3 separate regions of the Homo sapiens genome follow, and regions 1 and 3 are each reported to be linked to region 2. The links are microRNA targets in miRTarBase. Many come from high-throughput screens and were not tested one by one. Region 2 holds a microRNA gene; each other region holds the end of a gene's coding sequence. Distances are between the middles of the regions.
The links. The annotated mature microRNA hsa-miR-2682-3p reads CGCCUCUUCAGCGCUGUCUUCC and lies in region 2 at 2,801-2,822, shown strand. An mRNA with a match to its seed (bases 2 to 7 or 8) in the 3' UTR can be bound and repressed. Matches are read on the target gene's strand: a 7mer-m8 pairs with bases 2 to 8, a 7mer-A1 pairs with bases 2 to 7 and ends in A, and an 8mer does both.

Region 1 (4,000 bases), not on the chromosome of region 2:
AGGAGAGGAAATGCTAATGGGGAAGCGGCTGCCTTTCAGGGTGATGATAATGTTCTGGAATGAGATAGTTGTGATGGATGCACAACCCTAGGAACTTACTAAAAGCCATTGATGGTCCGGGCTCTATGGCTCACACCTGTTATCCCAGCACTTTGGGAGGCCAAGGCGGGTGGATTACGAGGTCAATAGATCAAGACCATCCTGGCCGACACAGTGAAACCCGGTCTCTACTAAGAATACAAAAATTAGCTGGACATGGTGGCGTGCGCCTGTAGTCCCAGCTACTCGGGAGGCTGAGGCAGGTGAATCGCTTGAACCAGGGAGGTGGAGGTTGCAGTGAGCTGAGATCACGCCATCGCGTTCCAGCCTGGGCGACACAGCGAGACTCCATCTTAAAAAATAAATAAATAAATAAAAGACAAAGGCAGGTGGCAGGCCCTGATGACTGATGGGACACAGGACAGGCAGGGCAGCGAGGATGACTGTCTCACTCATTTGTGGTCTCCTCCCTCAGACAAGAGGATGGAGGACAATCCCCTCTGCCACCTGTGCTGCATGGTGCTTATGGGAGATGCCGGGCAGGGCCCAGGAGGCAGCTGGACATGACGTCCAGGTCTCATTTGCAGAAGGGAGGGCTGACAAACCGTGAACCCCAAAAGTGGCAGAGCAGAAGAGGGCTGAGGTCCAGCCCCCAAATCACCAACCCCCACTCCAAGGTTGGGCTGGATCAAGGCGCTCACGAAGGGGGCTGGGAGGGGAAGCCAGAAGAGCTGGCACTGGAGGGGACCTGGGAGGGCGGTCAGTGCCCACGGCCAGCTCAGAGACACACCTGCTGGCCTGAGCGACAGGGGTCCTGTGCCACTCTGTCTTGGCAGAGGAGGTGGGACAGGAGGCTAGGCTGGGACCACTGGGGAATGGGGCCCACCTTATGACTGTGGGTCAGGTCCCGGGGGGCCAGGGGCTCCCGGAACTGGCCACTGCCCCACCCCCATTTTCAAACTTAGAGTTCTTAGTTGATACGTTTCTGATGCCTTGGGGATTTATTTTAAATTTCATGAGATGTTGTTGGCACTGTCATGTCAAAGGGCACGGACACACACCATGTGGTGCAAATGTCATACAGCAGGGTTTGTGGGCGAAGCACCAGCAGAGGCAGGGCTGGAAGCAGGAGCTGCCCCGCTGAGCTGCTGCCGGGCTGCACGCTCCGCGGCCAGCGTTCACCCGCACGCTTTAACTCTGTGACAGTGACTGGGCAGGCGACATCTGGTGGCCCTGGAACTTTGCAAGGGGAAGGCTCTGAAGCTCACTTAGTGGCTGTCAGGCCCTTGTCATGGCTGAGTGGCCACCAGGGTGCGGGTTGGTGGCCATGAAGCCACCCAAGGCAACAGCATCATCTAAATTCACGTCCATTGGAGAATCTCAGCCCAGCAACGCGAGCTGCCGTCTGTCTTCTAAGGTCAAAGCAGGCGTGAGGCAGAGGAAGAGTGGGCCAGTCCCGGTCAATGACGCAAATATCCAAAAGGGAAGAGAAGCCGATATTCTTCCTCTGATTCGCCTCATACCCGCTTAGGGGTGCCCAGAGCAGGGCATGGCATCATGTGACCATGGCGGGAAGATGCTGGCCGTGGAGGCCCCATCACAGAGGCAAGGAGCCCACAGGTGGAGGGCGCAGGCTTGGCAGGTAGCAGAGGCTGCAGTGACTCAGGCTGCTGTGACCCGGGCGTTTCTCTCGTATCTTGGGCATGTGGAGAGCTTCCCCTTCTGCAGGGGGCCTGATCAGAGGTCCAGCTGGTGGCGGCATGAACTGGACCATCTTTCAGCAAGTACCTTCCTCGGGCATGGCTGCCTCCTGTGGGCGTACACATTTGGACCACACAGTGGGAGTCGGGATTGGAGTACTGGGTCTGTAGCCTTGGCCATGAGTCCAGCTGGGGGCAGTTAGGTCAGCCTCGGGGCAGGATGCTTCAGGGCCGAGAACAGTGCCCAAAGCGCAGCCACTGTGTTGTGTGTCCTCTGCCATAGGCAAAGGATGGACGGGTGGGCAAGTCTGCCCTTGGCCCAGGGGTGCCACTTGCCCAGGCTTATGCAGATGAGTCTAGGCGTAACGCAGGCTAATGGCGAGAACAGAGCATCCTGCCTCTTCCAGCAACACGACGCAAATGTCCTGCCATATCCGGGCCTGGGAGAGGCCACAGGCTGCAGCTGGCCCCCCAGCAGCCCTTCCAGAGGCCCCAACCCCAGGTGTCTCCGTCCACTCTTGGTCCAGGTTACGTCTGGGCCAGGTGACTGTAACAGCCCAGGCATGGGGAGGGGTCTCCCCCTGGGCACTGGCATGGAGATGTGACGGAGTGTGGTTTCACGGCGGCCAACTGTTGCTGCAAGAGGGATGTGAACAAGTACCAGCTCCACACGGTGAGATGGAAAATAGGATTTATTGGGGGAACCGTACAAGCAGAGGAGAAGCAGGGGTGCCCAGGCTGTCACAGCCTTGCAGTGCATGGTGGGTTCCGTGGCCAACTTGCCAGGGGACAGGCCTGTTGCTGGCACTCCCCCCACAATTACAGGGTGGGAGTGAAGGACCTCGCGGCTGCGGACAGGTCCTTGTTAGTAAGGAGGAGGCTCTGCAGTCCCGGTGGGGTCATCTTGCCTCTCCGGACTGCTCCCTCTGACTGGTGAAGCCACACTCTGTGAAGCTGTCTGACAGAAGGGGACACGCCTTTGCTGCCCAGGATGGACCTGGGCCACCCAGGATGCCGCTGGCCTCAGCCAGGGCACGTGTGCCCAGCGCTGGCTCCTGCTGACCCCTGGACTGGCTCCCATCTCGGGAATGACGCCTGCCGTGGGAATCGTGGAGAGGGGGTTTAATTTAACTTGGAAGGAGCACAGAAAGGAAAGTGTGGAGTGCGGAGCGAGGCCTCTGGTTTGGCCAGCTCCGGTTGCTGGGGATGGCCACACCCTGGCAGCAGGCGGCCAGAGACCAGGAAGGCCTACCCAGCACCTGTCCAGAAGAGATTGGTGTGGGTTGACCTGGCCTATGCGGGGCAGCTCAGTTTGAAGCAGGAACTTCCCCAAACGTGCCCAGGCTCCAAGACAGCAGCATTCACTTTGCACCGTGCTGAGCAGAGCGGGGCCTCGCCAGGTGGAAAGCCCTAGGAAGGCTGCGTGCTCTGCAAACCCAGGGGTGCTGTGGCCGTACAGCAGGGGCGTCCGTGTCCAGGCAGCTTTGTCATGTCTTCCAAAGGTCAGGAAGGCGCCACCGCCCTGCCCCACGACAGCTGCGTCTGCAAGCGCCAGCTCTGAGCACTGTTCTCCGCCGACATGAGGACACCATCCAAGAATTCCTCCTGGGAGACCTCCTGAGGAGACGCGAAGACCATCGATGCTTTGGAAGAATGAAAAGAAGTTTCTGCTAAGCCAAACCTAGGTGGATGGGAAGTGCCTGTGTGGATGTGAAGCCACCTTGGGTGGGCGGCTCGGAGCTCCTCTGCCCACATCGCCTCACTGGGACTCGCCATCCAGTCTGACGTCTTTGATGTCCCTAATTACAAAGAGACACATGTTCATTGCACACATCAAAACATGGTGGAAATAGATAACACAGAAAGTTCAGGATTCCTGGAATCCTTTTTCCTGGGGATGCCACAGTCTAGAACATTTATTTTTGAGACGGAATCTTGCTCTGTCACCCAGGCTGGAGTGCAGTGGTGCGATCTCGGCTCACTGCACCCCCCGCCTCCTGGGTTCAAGTGATTCTCCCACCTCAGCCTCCTGAGTAGCTGGGACTACAGGTGCATGCCATCATGCTCAGCTAATTTTTTTTTTGTATTTTATTAGAGACGGGGTTTCACCATGTTGGCCAGGATGGTCTCGATCTCCTGACCTCAGGTGATCCACCCACCTCCGCCTACCAAAGTGCTGGGATTACAGGCATGAGCCACCTCACCTGGCTGATCATTTTTACACACACATCCATCCATCCGTATCAATTCCTTTACAACAT
Region 2 (4,148 bases):
AACGTTCCATTTACTAAATCCAAGCCTATCTGTATAGTGTGTTTCTTGTTTTCCTTTTAATATTAGTTGAGATTTAAATAGAAGAGTGCAGAAGCAAATGTACACTTTGCTCATAGACTATTGCATTACTTTCCCTAAGGGCTTTTGTTTCTAGGAGTTCAAGCTGAAGAGAACCTGTCAGCTTTCTGAATTTTTTTTTTGTCTAGCACCAGAGAAAAGCTCCACTTTATACCTATGTTAGGTAACAACAGAAAATAGTGCTTATTTATTTGTTTTATTGGTATCTGTCCTTTTGTAAGTGGTGTACTTAAGAGTTATCTGAAAATAATGTAAAACAGTCTGGTAGTTGGGCTATATTGGTTTTCTTTCTAGTTATTTTAGGTTCAGACATTATATATTAAACATCTATTCATAAAACCTAGAATTCATGTTGATTTTTCCATCTGTAAGTAACATGTCAAGAAAATGATGAGTTGGTGTGCCCGGAGAAGTATTATAATTTTTAAAAAAATAAGAGCAAACACAACCTAAGCACCTTAAATTGCAACCAGGTCAGTTAGAGATGAGTTGTGGTAGTGGGAGAGATTCTGTTATATAATTACTCCTTGATGAAGAGCTATTTGCACTTACATAATTTGGGAAATCATAATGTCTATTGCCATGTTTCCATATTCCCCCCCATTCCCCTTACATGGATGTACTTTCATGTATTTGAGAGTAAAGGGGAAAGCAAATTGAGAACTTTCTAAGGAAGCTACACCATGTCTTGGGTAGTGACGTTGCACTTGTCCATTTTATTTAGTGAACAATAAACCCCCATTATCAGAATATCCACTGCAGGATCTTAAGACAAAGCTTTTCCAGTAAGAGCCATATTGATCATCAAAGAATCACAGAGATTCTCTCTCTGAATGCCAAAATTACAGTCACTTTGCAAATGAGTTTTTATTGGCTTTTTCTTCTTAAAATAATATTTATGAACACAGAGCTTCAAAGGTTTTTCTGTAGAGGTGTCCACAACAGCTGTACAGCAATGCATTTATAGTATATATTTTAAAAGTGTGCTATGAAATTAAACATTGTAGTGATATAAAATGATGCTTAAATCATAGAAAGTCTACCAGCTTGTCAACTCAGTGAGTTTTGACACTATGGAAAATGGGTTTAATTACTGTGTGCCTTCAAGCTTTTTTTTTTCTTTAAAAATCATTATGTTGTATAGCTATAAGGCCTTCAAAGGAAAGACGCCTATTTTTGTACATCTATAAGTATTTGATTTCAAGTAGTAAATTGAATGAGTGTTTATTTTCCATGATCTTGGGCTTGAGAAAAGTGCATTTCCAAAACACACTACTGAAAATTTCACCCATGCATGACCTATCTTTATTTAAGCCTCACTTCTTCCCAAAGCCGTCTAGGCAAATATATTTGTATTTGTGTGGGTAACTATTCACGTCTCTTACAGGGTTCTCTGGCCGCCATGGCACTCAATCATACCACCTAGAGTGGACTGGCCGAGACCAGACTGGGTACCAAGCAGAGAAGTGCAGAGGAAAGCACTGGGAGAGCACCAGGTAAACTGAAGGTTACTTGTCACTCCCACTTGTGCCCAAAAAGCCTTGCCACATCTTCCCTCCTCACTGGAAAGACAGCACTCTTCTGTGTTAAGTATTTGATTTTGTGATTTGTCTTTCAGAATTGGAAATAGAGCGGCCATTTGGATTTGGGCAGGAAGCAGCCGAGCACAGCTTTGGATCCTTCTTTAGGGAAATCGAGTTATGGATTTATGGTCCCGGTCAAGCTCAGCCCATCCCCAGGCAGGGGCGGGCTCAGCGAGCAGCAAGAGTTCTGGTGGCGGCGGCGGCGGCAGTAGCAGCGGCAGCGGTAGCAGCGGCAGCGGTAGCAGCGGCAGCGGCAGCTTGGTCCTCTGACTCTCTTCGGTGACGGGTATTCTTGGGTGGATAATACGGATTACGTTGTTATTGCTTAAGAATACGCGTAGTCGAGGAGAGTACCAGCGGCAGGGGGGCAGCGGCCGCCCTCCCCAGCCCACCAGCTGGCCACTAAACGCCCGTGGTTGCCAAGGTAGCACTTTCTTGTTCTTTTCATTTCCTCGGGTGTTTTCGCACTGGTTCCACCGGAAAGGCTGTGCGCTGCGCCTCTGGTGACCAGGACTGGAAAATGGGTTCGCGCAGGGGGCGGGGGGCGAGGTGAAGGGGATGGGCGGGGAGCGGAAGGGGGTCCGTTTCCCCGAGCCTGCGGGGCGGTTCGGCGTTCCCAGTCCGCTCCTCTCCTCTCCACGGTGGGGTGCGGCTGGAGGGAGAGACGCGGACGGGGCGATTTTCTAAAGTTGGGAACGACTGAAAGGCCTTGAGCAGTTTGGGAGCGTCGCGAGTGAGGCGCCGAAGCTGGGCAGAGGGTCGCTGGGGGCTGCCTCCGCAGAAAGGGCGTGTCCGTGGGCGAAGGTGCCCCCGCAAGCCTGCGGAAGCGCGTGACTTCGCGAATCCCGAGCCCGGGGCGGTGCCGGAGCCCCACCCCCGGCCGGCCGCGCTGCTCCGCAACCAGACTTGGCGGCCGAGATGGGGAGGGGGCGGGGGCCCGGGGGCTGGGTCCCCGCGGAACTTCCAGATCGGAAGTGTGGCGGGTCTCTCAGGAACGCATATTTTCTTTTCGGATTCTCCGAGAAGGGGTGGAGAAACAGGATGGGAACCGGATTGGTTGCAGTGTGGCACAGACCTGGAACCTTCCTGAAAGAGGTTGGGGCAGGCAGTGACTGTTCAGACGTCCAATCTCTTTGGGACGCCTCTTCAGCGCTGTCTTCCCTGCCTCTGCCTTTAGGACGAGTCTCAAACACCAACAAACGCAAGGCACGTCCCCCCTCTCAGGTCAGCTGCGAAGGCGTGGGAGCAAGAGAGAGCCTCTCCCTCCTTCTACTTAGAGTTTTTGTTTGTTTGTTTGTTTGTTTGTTTCAAATATTAATGGACGATAAAACAACACGGATTTGTCACCTCCTAGCGAAGAGGAAGCCACCGCCACCACACCCCTCAAGCATGCCTGGGCACTCCTGGGGACAATCGGACGTGGCAGGAGTTGGCATGCCCAAGATGAAGCTGGGAAGGATGACCCAGAGTGGAAGGCGTGGGCTGGGGCTCCAGGTCTCAGCTCTCGCCAGCGTCGGACCACACAGCTTTGCCAGCTTTGCACCTTGCCTTTCCTTCTTGTGAGGCATCTGGGACCGTCCTATCAAGGCGCTTCAAAGGTGGAAGGACAGAGTGCTGGGGACAAGAACGTACCAGGCGCCCAGAAGATTCCACTAGCGCGGCCAAACACTAAGACCAGGTTTCCTCCCTGCGTGGTGGTCGTTGGTTGTGCACGGGCTACGCACGAAGACTGAATTCCTGAGAAATGGAAACTGCAGGAGAAAAATCAAATAAACTTAGAGGCCTGTGAAGCTCTCCCTCTTGTCGCTCTGGGACCGCTCTAAGCTGAGCTACATCTCAGATACCTTCTCCCCCTGGAGGATGGGCCTTTCTCAGGCACGAAGTGCGTGTGCCCCACTGGGCTCTTGCCCACAAGAGCAGTCTGAACCCTGGAGAGGCTGACACCGAGGTGTCTTGAAGGAAGCAGGCACACTCTCATGCTTCCCCACCTAGGGTTTCGCCTTTCTTCTAATATTTAGGATTCCCAGTGAAGGGTACTCCACACACACCCTCTGCCTACCCCTAATCCCACCCCATTGTGTCTGATCCCACAATTACTCCCAGGGTATCTATACTCACAGCTTTTGCGCTCAAAGAACATTGTCGTCTGCAGGGAACGGGTGGAGCCCTTCTCAGAAGCTCCCGGGGGCGAGTCCATTTTAAGAATGAGTTGAAGTAGGAAAGAAAACACAGATGCTGTCTTTGCATTCGACATTCTATCACCAGCAAGAGAATATGTAACTCCTGTTCTTTCCTTCATTATTCCATGAATTACCTTTTTTCTCTAGGGATCTACCAGTTGGTGATTTAGGGCTTTTAAATATTATGCTTGTTATGTATTTAACAAAATGCAATATGTCTACTGGTGGCATTGTTTCCTTGGGAAATTAGAAAAGTAGAAGCTACATACTCTAGTTCCTAGGTGGTCTCTGGAAAGTTGGCCTCATG
Region 3 (4,000 bases), 55 Mb from region 2:
CTGGTGTCATCAGGCCCCTCCATGAATGAGACAAACAAAAGTGAGTGACAGTGGGAGGATGATGGGGGTGGGGGGCTTCCCCTTAGATGCTGGGGTTGGGGGAAGGACCCTACCTGCACTGCTCTTGGTTTCTCCAGGGAGCCCCCTCTGGGGCCCACCTATAATGCTGTCCCTTTCTCTGCAGCACTTGTTGGGCCTTCGGAGCTCCCCACAGCGTCTGCTGTGGCCCCTGGCCCAGGCACTGGGGCTCGGGCATGGCCTGTGCTGGTAGGATTTGTGCTGGGGGCTGTGGTCCTCTCGCTCCTCATTGCACTTGCTGCCAAATGCCACCTCTGCCGCCGATACCATGCCAGCTACCGGCACCGCCCACTGCCTGAGACAGGAAGGGGAGGCCGCCCACAGGTGGCTGAAGATGAGGATGATGATGGCTTCATCGAGGACAATTACATTCAGCCTGGGACTGGCGAGCTGGGGACAGAGGGTAGCAGGGACCACTTCTCCCTCTGAGCTCCCATCTTTAGACCCTCCCCACTCCCTCCATGCCTGACAGCTTAAGGACAGTGGTTATGACATGGGGGCCTTGAACCTCAGGGACAGAGGTGGCTGGGGCTTAAAGGTTGGCCAGGGATGGAGTAAACCCCACTTCCCTGACACTAGCCAGCAAAGTGACAATGACCCTCTCTTGCTCAATAACTCTCAACTGTTCCCTGCTGTTCTCAGGATAAAGCCAAACAAAGGCTTGAGTGTGGACATAAGGCCCTCTGTGATCATGCCTCTCGGCCTCTTGGTTTCTTTTCTTGCCTTCCCCTACTTTACTGTCGAAATCAATGTTATTCTCCCTCCCACCACTTCCCATGCAGTTTCCCCAGGCACCTTTGCTCACATTGGTCCCCCTGCCTACGCTACTCTTCTCCTAAATCCTCTATGACTGTGATGGCCTGCCTACCTGCCAGCATTTCAAATATGCCCAGATGGTAACATTTGTGCAGGTGAAAACCAGTGCCAAGCTTCCTTTTTTTTTTTTTCCTGAGACGGAGTCTCACTCTGTTGCCCAGGCTGGAGTGCAATGGCACATCTTGGCTCACTGCAACCTCCGCCTCCTGGGTTCAAGCGATTCTCCTGCTTCAGCCTCCTGAGTAGCTGGGATTACAGGCATCCGCCACCACGCCCAGCTAATTTTTATATTTTTAGTAGAGACGAGGTTTCGCCATATTGGCCAGGATGGTCTCGAACTCTTGACCTCAGGTAGTCCGCCTTCCTCGGCCTCCCAAAGTGCTGGGATTACAGGCGTGAGCCACCATGCCCGGCCAGCTTCTTAATGAAATATTTTCCTATAAATAAAGTGGGTAATCCGGTTATAATATGTTTTTCACAGGAATTAATAAATCTATTTTCATTTTGAATAAAAATAAAAAGCTGTCACTCATTTTTATTTTTCTTGAGCTGGGCTTTATCACTCAGAGCTAGAAGACACTGCTCAGATGCTCCCCCCTCCAAGACACCTTCCATGAGCCCTTCTCTAGTACTGTCCTGCCCACATTTTGTTTTCATCTTTTTGTTTGTTTTCAGGCGGAGTCTTGCTCTTGTTGCCCAGGCTGGAGTGCAATGGCGCAATCTCAGCTCACTGCAAACTCCGCCTCCCGGGTTCAAACAATTCTCCTACCTCAGCCTCCTGAGCAGCTGGGATTACAGGCACCCACCACCACCACACCCAGCTAATTTTTGTATTTTTAGTAGAGATGGGGTTTTGCCATACTGGCCAGGCTGGTCTCAAACTGCTGACCTCAGGTGATCCACCCTCCTCAGCCTCCCAAAGTGCTAGGATTACAGGTGTGAGCCACCACACCTGGCCATCTTTTTTTTTTTTTTTTTTTTTTTTTTTTGACACAGGGTCTCTCTCTGTCACCCAAGCTGCAGTATGGTGGGGCTATCACAGCTCACTTTAGCCTCGATCTCCTGTGCTTAAGTGATCCTCCCATCTCAGCCTCCCAAGTAGCTGGGAATACATGCATGTGCCACTGCGCATGGCTAATTATTTTTTGTAGAGATGGGGTCTCACTGTATCACCCAGGCTTGTCTCGAACTCCTAGACTTTAGTGATCCTCCCACCTCTGCCTCCCAAAGTGCTGGGATTTACAGGCTTATTTTAATCTTTATGACGGTTCGTACTTGCCTCTTACTATGCCTGCCCCCATAGCTAAACTGGGAGCTCCCTGAGGCCCCAGATTGTGTCTTATTGTGTATCCTCAGATTCTTGCACAAGGGAGCTAGTTTTAAGATGGAAAAGACTTGAGTTAAGCTGTTTTTAATTGCAAGCAATAGAAAGGAGTTTGGGGGAGAGTCCTGGCTGTTGCATAGAATCAAAGGGACAGCAGGAAGCAGGCGGTCCCAGCAGCCAGAGGTCAGGCATTTCACCCCTAGCATCCTGTCGTTTAGGGGCACTGATGGGACTCTCTATAACCAGGACTTCCAAACTCTCAGTTCCAAGTTTCAAGTGCTCAGAAAAGAGAATCAATTTGGCCCAGTTTGGGTCAAGTATACATAGGCTTAAAGCACAATCTGCTATGAGTGGGGGGCATGGTTTGGGGAGCCCATCTGTTTGTTCCAGATCATTCTCAGACAAGGGGCAGTTCTCATGAGCCAGGCAGCCACCCCCATGTGTTCCCCAAGTACAGTGTCAGCCTTTGAGGAATGAGCTGGTACAGAAGGAAAGTGAGGCATTGGCAAATGTAGTGAGGTGCTTGGGAAAGAGGCAGGAGATTGAAGAGGACTTGAGTGTCGTATCTGAGGGGTGCCCATGGCAGTGAGGAAGCCCAAGAGTGGATCTGTTAGGGCCTTGGATGCCAAGCTCACACTTCAACCTGAGAGCAATGGAAGCTCATCTGTGGACTTTTTTTGTGCAAGGGCATGACATAATCATGATAGAAAAGTCATTCTGGCTGCTGTGCAGAGATGGATTGGAGGGGAGACACCGAGAGAAGGTAATAAGACCTGTCTAAGGTGTGACATAGGAACAGACTTTGAGACAAGAGGGAGGAAGAGCTGATAGGACCTGTTGACTTTGGATATGGGGAGTAGGTAGGTATCAGAAAAACGCACCCTGGCTTCTGGCTTGGTTACTGGGTACATTGACGAAGAGCAGGTTGGGGCAATGGGGATTCAATGTTGGATACAGGATTTCCAGGGGAGATGCCTCGGGGCTGCTGGGTTCACAGGGAGAAGTCTAGTCTGCAGACACGGGCTTGGGAACACTTGGCACCAGGGTCATTGAGAGCAGGAATGGATGAGATCGCCAGAGAGGAGCGGAGCGGGAAACACATCTCAAGACTGTCAGCGGACCAAGCCCTGGCAGGGGAGTTGGAGGAAGCAGAGAGGAGGGAAGCCCAGCTCACATGACCCCCAACCTGGCCATGGTTCCTGAGTCCAGAGATGGTCTGCCCCTCACAGGCCTGGGGAGAGCAGAGGCTGCCCCAGCCTGAGACCCTGGAGGAGGACCCCAGAGGCTGACCTAAGGGGCATGTCCTGGCCTACCAGGAAAAGCTGCTGCCCAGGCAGCTGAGCCTGCCCCCTGCCCCTGGGCTCCTTCAATTCCCACCACAGAGGAGCTGCCCTGCGTGCAGTTCTATGCTTGGCTGTCCCTGTTCTCCTGTACTCTTTGGGGCCTCAGTCAGAACCTCTGATGGACCCAGGAGAAGAAGGTAAGGGCCTGATCCCAGACTCGCAGTTGATTTTGCTGAGCCTGTGCCCCACAGGGTGCCCGAGCTGGGGCTTCCCCTCAGAACCAGCTGTGGGTGGCAAGCCTGGCTGAGGAGGGCCCTGTAGTCACAAGAACCTTGGACCCTGTCCTTCAAGGCCTTGATTCCTTGGAGGAATTTCTTCCCACTGTGGTTTGCATGCCTGACCCCAAGTGCAAAGAGGGAGCATGACCTGAGCCCACAGCCGCAAAGGGCTGGGGGTGTTGGGAGCTTGGGATTCAGCCAGGCCCTCTCTGGTTTGGCGT

Region 1: the mRNA of FLYWCH1 is a reported target of hsa-miR-2682-3p. Seed matches in the 3' UTR shown: 7mer-A1 at 2,645-2,651 and 8mer at 2,135-2,142.
Region 3: the mRNA of C1orf210 is a reported target of hsa-miR-2682-3p. The part of its 3' UTR that is shown has no 7-base or 8-base seed match.

Annotation. Positions count from the first base shown.
Region 1 is chr16:2,948,226-2,952,225 of GRCh38, reverse strand. It overlaps FLYWCH1 (FLYWCH-type zinc finger 1), which reads right to left. Exons shown (of 10, transcript NM_001308068.2): 10 at 1,018-3,538. The coding sequence ends at 3,499. The region is part of intron 2 of FLYWCH1-AS1 (FLYWCH1 antisense RNA 1); the gene reads left to right. Among named protein-coding and RNA genes, the nearest start is that of FLYWCH1-AS1, 5.9 kb to the left of the region's middle.
Region 2 is chr1:98,043,945-98,048,092 of GRCh38, reverse strand. MIR2682 (microRNA 2682) reads left to right here and starts at 2,742; the gene lies at 2,742-2,851. LOC124904228 reads left to right here and starts at 2,590. Exons shown (of 1, transcript XM_047437906.1): 1 at 2,590-4,148. The coding sequence starts at 2,703. The coding sequence ends at 3,224. It overlaps MIR137HG (MIR137 host gene), which reads left to right. Exons shown (of 5, transcript NR_046105.1): 2 at 1,466-1,574; 3 at 1,697-2,085. It overlaps MIR137 (microRNA 137), which reads left to right and starts at 1,922; the gene lies at 1,922-2,023.
Region 3 is chr1:43,279,292-43,283,291 of GRCh38, reverse strand. C1orf210 (chromosome 1 open reading frame 210) reads left to right here. Exons shown (of 3, transcript NM_182517.3): 2 at 1-40; 3 at 185-1,415. The coding sequence starts at 22. The coding sequence ends at 507. Among named protein-coding and RNA genes, the nearest start is that of C1orf210, 4.3 kb to the left of the region's middle.